2 linked regions of the Homo sapiens genome follow. The protein of the gene in region 1 purifies or fractionates together with the protein of each later gene. This does not show direct contact. Each region holds a gene or a part of one and is shown on either strand. Other genes may lie near its edges.

Region 1 (3,825 bases):
TTCTTTTTAAAATTGCAGAATATTCTTTATGTTGAAAAGAAACTTGAAATGCAAAATACTGTTTTTCTAAACCAGCCACCTTAGTGCCCACAGATCATAGAATTCATACATTCTTTTCCCTGTGTGTAATGTAATACAGATGTACTTACAATACTTTAAAAGTGTTTCCAGCATTCAAGGATTAAATGCTTCACATCTTTTAAACATTATTTCTCTTTGAAATAAGCAGTGTTTTTTTCAAAGTTAGTAGCAATTATATAAAAAAGAAAAATGAGATTATATCAGATACCCAAGTAAAAGATTAACTTACAAAGTAAAATATAAAATGGTGATAACTAAATTTTTCTTGGGAGGAAATAAGACCTGGACTCTCAAACAGGAACTTTTCAAGTGGCATCCTACAAGCACTTGGCAATAACTTATCTTCTGTGCATTTTAGCTAAATCATAAGGCTTCTAATGAAAGGCATTTTTCAAATAAGGGAATGTTTTTTACTTGTTTCAGTTTTTGGTAAATAATTTTCAGTGCATATTTAATGTTTTAGGTATCTGATTTCTTTTTGTAATATTAAATCTTAATTGGGTTTCTCTAGATTTCCAAAGCTGAAACCAAGAAGCAACAAAAAGAGTTCTTCAAAGGCCACATGAGAATCAGAGCCTAAAATTATTGCTGATATAAAATATGTTCCTAGCAGAGGAATGTTCAGAGGTACATAAAAATTACTATGCAACAAGTTAAACATGCTTTGGATCCTAAAACTGTAATGATTACACTTATTTGGATCCTGAAACTGTAATGATTACACTTATTTGGATCCTGAAACTGTAATGATTACACTTACTTGGATCCTGAAACTGTAATGATTATACTTAAAAAAACTTGGTTCCTGTTTTACATGCTAAGCAGGCACTTAAAAAGCACTAAGGATGCAAAGATTTATAAGAGGCTTGTCAACTGATAAATTATTTTAAAAATATTTTATGCAATGAAAATCTGGTATGTTGTGTGGTTTTGATTAGAATCAGTGGATTTTATTTAGTGTTTAGCCTAAAATGTTGCAAACTTCTAATCAGCAATACGCTATTGAGTGTCAGTAAGCTTCTGGGCCACAGCTTTCCAACCTGTTAAATGAAGCGTTCAGATTTCACTAAATAATCTTTTAGCTGAAATTCTGAATTTCTTAGATTTTTCTACTACAAGTGGTTACTCTTAATCTACCATTAATATTTATCAGTAATTTAAAAGTAAATTTTGTAAACTGTTCATAAAGAAAGCCTATCAGACACATATGGGGTTAATATTTTATGGACTTGGAATTTAGTTAAATGAAGCAATAACTTTTACTGGTTGTTTGGGTTTGGAGTTTAACGCTGAGTTAAAGTTCCGGCTCCATCATTCACTGGTCTGTGATCCTGGACAAGTTACTTAAGTTATTTAATCCTCAGTTTCCATGCTTGAAAATGGGGATAATGACAGTATCACTTCAGAGAGTTACTGTGAGGGCTAAATGATAAAACACAGAAACTGCTCACTCATTTATTTAAGCCCTAAGCACATGTGTTTGTTTTATATTTTTATTTACCAAAAATAACAACACTTTCCTATAGAAACTCTAGTTCAGGACAAAGTCACTGGATTTCATTAGCAGTGAACATACTGCCTTTATGTGCATTTTGCATTTTAAATGTAGCCTTACAACTTTCTGTATGACCTTCAAATCATTATTTTATTGTCACATTTACTTCCAAGAAGATAAAGGTACTTTGAATGTTTCTGTTTCCACTATCTTGAAGCAAGTTTTAAGAGCCCAGCTTTGCACTGCCTAAAACACTTAGGTTTAGCTCCTTTGCAAGCCATTAAGCTACTGAATCCTAAGGGACAGCTTTATCTTTTTGAAATTTTCACAAACTCTGGTATTTCCATTAATATAATGTCTCTGCTACCATAAGACAAACTACTTAGGTTTGGAGGAATTAAGATACTAACATTTGTCTTTTCTCTTGCCCTCTGGGACCCTTCTTAGACATTTCCTCTTGTTATTTCACTTGCTCACCCTCACAGGTTCACTGGCTGACCCTGCTCTGGGCAGCCTCATGGGCGCATTATGAGGGCAGAACGGCTCAGTGGGCCAAACAGGTGTTACAGTGACATATATAAATAAAAGTTGTCATGATAATCAAGGGTGTGCTTTTAATCTTGACTCTGTCACTAACTTTCAAAGAAACAGGCCAAGCTCTTGAACTTCTTTCTCTGTACTTTATTAGCAAATTAGTGTGCTTTAAAAAAAAAAAAAAAACCTCCTCATAACCACAAAAGACAAGTTTTTAAAGAAACGAAATCACAAACCACTTTATGTCCCATCTGATCACTGACACTCCATGGATCATCGCCCCTTCCACCTGCTAAAAAATACCAAAACTAAGTTTGAATTTCTCCAAATTTAGCAATCTAGTAGCAGGCCCTAGGCCACAGTATTTTTCCACTAAAATAAGATCATTGAATTAGGTGATCACTAAGATCCCTTCAGCTCTAAATTTCTACAATTTTTGATACTTAACTATATTTTTTCACAGTTGTATTTATTTCTCAATCTAGGTTTCTAGATTAAAAGTTCAACTAAATTATTCCAAAAAAGTTTTAATTCTTCTTTTATTTAAACTTTAAAAGGTATTATTTAAAATTTCTCCAAATAATACTTCTGTGTAACAATTTTTGCAACTCCTAATGTTCAAGTCATATAGAAAAGGATTTTGCCATAGTTAATCTTTTTCTCACCCAATCTCTCTTAGTTTTCATATTTTAAAAATCACAGTAGTTAAGTTAGTGGTTTGATGCACTTTGTTTTGGGATTTTTATATATCCACATAAATGAGGACGATACCTGCTTGACATGGAGAGTAGATCATGAATTGTGTAGTACAGACATATGTCTTAATTCAGAAAGCTCACCAGTTCAGAACTGCATTTGGTAAATTATCCTATTCTAACCATGATATTTAAACTATGGATGTGGTTAAATAAAATGGCCAACTATATATTTTAAAACCTGTTTTAAAGAGGGGCTTACAAGGCTCTGACTTGTTCTAGATATTATTTCTTTGAAATCTTTTCTGATTTTCGCTGGTAAATTCAATTACTTTTAAATCCACAAGGCTTGAGTTCCAGTCTTATCACTGGTCCTTATGAGCTATAACTCCACAAGGAGACTCAGTTTTGCCCATCAATATAATGGTAGGAAAGATACCTACTCATGGGTTAGTTTGTAAGGACTATAACAGGTGAAAATGTTTCCAAAGTGTAACTTGCTAAGCTAGCATCAGTAATAAGATTTTATACTCCAAAAGTAATTTGGCACTCCTAGCAAGGAAATGACATACTTATCAGGAATTATATTTATGATTTATGACAGAGACAGAGACTAGTTAGTAGAAAAAGCATGAACTGAACTCTTGACAAACAGGTCTGAGTCCAAATCTTAGCCTTATAAACTGTACAAACTTAGTTTCTTTGGGTAAGTCAATTTTTCAGAGCCTACGATTCCTAATCAGGTAAAGTAGAGAAGACATAGTACATACTTTATTAGAATTAATGCATGTGAAAATGTTATAAGCATTAGCCTGGCATTTATTCTTCAATTGATTGCTCAAATATTTACTTAGTGTCTACTATGCACAGGTAGTCTGCTAGGTAATGGAAGTTCATAGAAATAAACCTTGCACTTTATGGGGGGAGGCAGACAAACAGCTATTGCATTCATTGGCACAAGTATCATGATAGAAATGTAAAGTGACACTGGCTAGTAATGGTTTTTCCTTTCTATAGTTA
Region 2 (3,646 bases), on another chromosome or scaffold:
TCCATACCTTCTTGCATTTTTAGCGTCTGCTCTGTGGGGTTGTTAGGCCCTGGCACTCCCAGGAACTAGTGCTAAAGCTGCATCTCTCTCTCCCCTCTAGGGATCGATAAAGTTTCACTGCAGAAAGTCTCCACTGCGGTATGCTGACATCTGCCCTGAACCTTCACCCTACAGCATTACAGGCTTTAATCAGATTCTGCTGGAAAGACACAGGCTGATCCACGTGACCTCTTCTGCCTTCACTGGGCTGGGGTGATCCTTGGTGCCTTTGTTTCCACAAGGCCTTTTCCTGCCCCCTGCCTTGCCAAAGACATTTAATCAGCACACAGCTGCCAGACTATTCCCACAGTGCTCCAAATGCACATGAACAACAGTGACGGCTCCAGCCTTCGACCCAGAGCCCCGTGCCCAGTGCGTCAGTGGGCCTGGGGTTCCAGGCTACATCAAGCACTGATGGTGTCAGGGCTGGTAGTTACCAAATCAGGGTTAAGAAACATCAGGGCCACATTTCACTACCTTCACAGATCAAACTCAGCAGCAGTCATGACTGTCTGTCACTACACTGGGGATCCCAATTCCACATAAGCACTTTTGGAAGAAAACAGCCAAAGTTGGCCTAAAATTGGCGCTGGAATTTGGGCTGGGAAAAATCTTGTGGTTATTTCCTTTAAAAAGGAACAAAACTTTAGTATTTAATTAGTTGATTTATTTAATGTAATTTCAAACAATTAAATTATGAATAATGCAATGTACAGTAGAATCACGTTTTGATTTTATTAACACTGACCAAGTTTAACTCCATATGAAGTGTAAGCTTGATATCGTTTATGATGTCTATCAACTGTACCAAAAGTAAAACATTTAAAAACAATCATCTGAATGTCAAGTTTTCTCTCCATAAAGGACTTGCCACCTTAAGGACCCCAAGTCTGCCTGAAACATGAGCCACATCAATGCCGGTAAAGGCCTGCATGACCTAATCTGCATCCTGGAAACCTCTTTTGCCTGAGCTCCCCAGCCCCAAACTAGCTGGTCTGGGAGAGGGAGCAGGCAGGTTCCAGGAGTCAAGCACACGCTTGAGCAAGCAGCACAATAATCCATCTTAAGACTCCTCATTCTGGGATGGCTCCACAATTCCTAAACAGCAGTCTGCAAACTCCACAAACAAAGGCTCTTGCATGTAAGCTCTCATGAGCTTTGCTTTGTCTTCTCCCTGATCGAGGTTGACCATCAACTGCCTGAGGTGTGGATTGAGCAATAAGCTTCTTAATGTTGCAGATTCCCCTAAAAATTAACAAGAAAAAAAGCCAGTCTGAGTTCAAGTGGAAACACATGGAGATGGCTGAAAAGTGAAGAGCTATTTCAAGTGTAATAAAACTATCAGCAAGGTGTGGTGGCTCATGCCTGTAATACCAGCAACTGGGGAGGTCAAGGTGGGCAGATTGCTTGAGCTCAGGAGTTCAAGACCAGCCTGTGCAACATGGCGAGACCCCACCTCTATAAAATGAAAGGTAAGACCAGCATATCAAACTATTTCCGCATTAAATGCAGTAACAGATACCAGTTCTTGGTATCTTTGTAAATATTGTAACTTCGTGCCACTTCAGCTAAGAAAAAAATGCTTTATCAGCACAATCACAAAGCAAATAGTAGCATTAAGCTGCTGGCATGTTTTCTTTCTTTCTAGCCATAAAAGTTGCCAGTGGTGAAGACGGCTATACGAAATAATCTGAATGATGTCTAAGCATGCCATTTGGCATGCAGCAGCACCAGTAGCAGGGAACCAACAATAATACCTGCATGGTACTTCACAGTCTGTAAAATTTTTCACACCTATTACTAGCTCATCTCCAAACTCAGTCTAACTAATCATTACCATGAGACTAAGTGCAAAACATAACCTTTTAACATGATTCTGTGAAATGGGAAGAATGAAATTAACAGACCCCATGCACATGTAACAGAATGTTGTAAGGACTGAATAAGCAGTGCTACAAAAATGGCAACACCTGTTTCCCCCTAAATCAAATCATGTGATAACCAGTTTGTGTTAAGGGCTGGACTGTGAGCTGAGCACTGGGGATCTGGGAATACAGGTCCCTGCTGTACAAATCGGTATGTGAGAGACAAATTACCATGAAATGTAACAGTGATTTATTACTATTAAGTCCAAGTTGCTATGGGAAACCAAAAAAGTGCCTAATTCTGAAAGAGACACAAAAGGTCAAGAAAAGCTTAGCTGAGTGAAGAAAACTTGAACCAAGGCTTGAAGGAGGAGCAGAATTTTGCCAACCCACAAGACCAGCAGGATTCCAGGCAGAAGGAATGGTGTGGGCAGGCTGGGAGGTGTGAAACCCTGTATGTTTACAGATTATGTGGCTAGATAGTAAGAGCCCTACATGCCATACTTATTCAAGAAATTAAAAACTTTTTAAAAAATCACAATCCTTACAACACAGTAAATGTATCTCAACGATTGACAAGCATAGCACAGACTTACCTAAATTCTTTAAATTCTGCAAAGAAACTCTGTCTTCTTCCTCATCACTATTGAGAAAATCAGCTATAGAGTCATCATCATCTAAGGAATACAAAACAGTCAATGGCTCATGGCTAAAAAGGAGGCCTGGGCACCAGATTTTAACCACTACTTGAACAGGATAAAAATGTGTGCACGCACATGTGATAGTGATAGGGGTATTCAAGCAGGTACAGACAAAAATCCTCTTCTCCGGAGTCTGTGACTATACTAACACTCCTTTTTTAGAAGAGGGAGGCTAAGTGAAAGAATTGGTGATTTTAACAAATGCACTCTAGTGTTCACATCCTTACTGTATATGTGGTCCTGTGGTCTTTAGGCTTAGACCCCGGTTGTCTAATAACTTAATACCCATCCCCACCTCAACATGGCTCCAACCCTGTGATGGGCCAATTAACTGGATGCTCTGTAAAAACCAGCCAAGTAGAATCTCCTGTGCTTTCAGCATGGGCAGAAACTGCTGGCATTGCCTGAACCCAACCTGGAAATTTCTCAAAGGGCAAAAATGGGCCATGCCTTTGGAGTGAATGTTCAATACCTCTTTGGTGGCACCAGAGGGGCTGCTTTCAGAGCCTGGCATGGTGCTTGACACCCAGGAGGTATTAAAGAACGTTTAGATGGCTGGACGGATGGGTTGACAGCCCACTACTGCTGTGAGCTCTGAACCCCCAGCAGCAGCGAGATGATCTAGGACAAAGAAAGCCTCCTGCCTGGGCTGAGTTCAGGTGAACTGACAGTCCCAGCCAGATTCATGGAGGGAGACCAGCAGCTATGGGCTAGAGAAGGCTCCTGCCAGCAGGGCCCACCGCAAACCCCCAAACCACAGCCATGGCCTTTCTCATCTCTGTCTTCTGCCCATTTTTCTTCTCCTGAATACTGCTTTCAGGCTGTTGCCTCAATATCACCCATGATGACATGGCCCCACTCCTGATGCTCAAGGCTAAGGAAGCTGTTCCTTCCCAATGAAGCTATTGTTCTGGATTCCCTGACCAGCCCCACTCTCCCCTTTTCCTTCGACTTATTCTATGTGAAGTCCCTTGTAGATTTGTTTGAAGTCAACCAACCCACCTTTGTTTTCCACAGGCTTTACGGTTTTGGTAGGAAGAG

What was found.
Region 2: the proteins of ZNHIT6 (region 1) and ZNHIT3 purify together in Homo sapiens (affinity purification with western blotting, with the first as the bait; one study listed by BioGRID). This does not show direct contact.

Annotation. Positions count from the first base shown.
Region 1 is NC_000001.11:85,659,876-85,663,700, forward strand, and holds part of ZNHIT6 (box C/D snoRNA protein 1), read right to left. Parts: intron 2,403-3,825; coding exon of another isoform or gene 2,384-2,402; exon of another isoform or gene 2,243-2,383; intron 1-2,242. UniProt on the Homo sapiens protein: Required for box C/D snoRNAs accumulation involved in snoRNA processing, snoRNA transport to the nucleolus and ribosome biogenesis.
Region 2 is NC_000017.11:36,492,861-36,496,506, reverse strand, and holds the end of ZNHIT3 (zinc finger HIT domain-containing protein 3), read right to left. Parts: coding exon 3,608-3,646; intron 2,582-3,607; coding exon 2,501-2,581; intron 1,285-2,500; coding exon 1,103-1,284; 3' UTR 685-1,102; downstream 1-684. Other genes in the region: MYO19 (unconventional myosin-XIX), read left to right, coding at 101-256.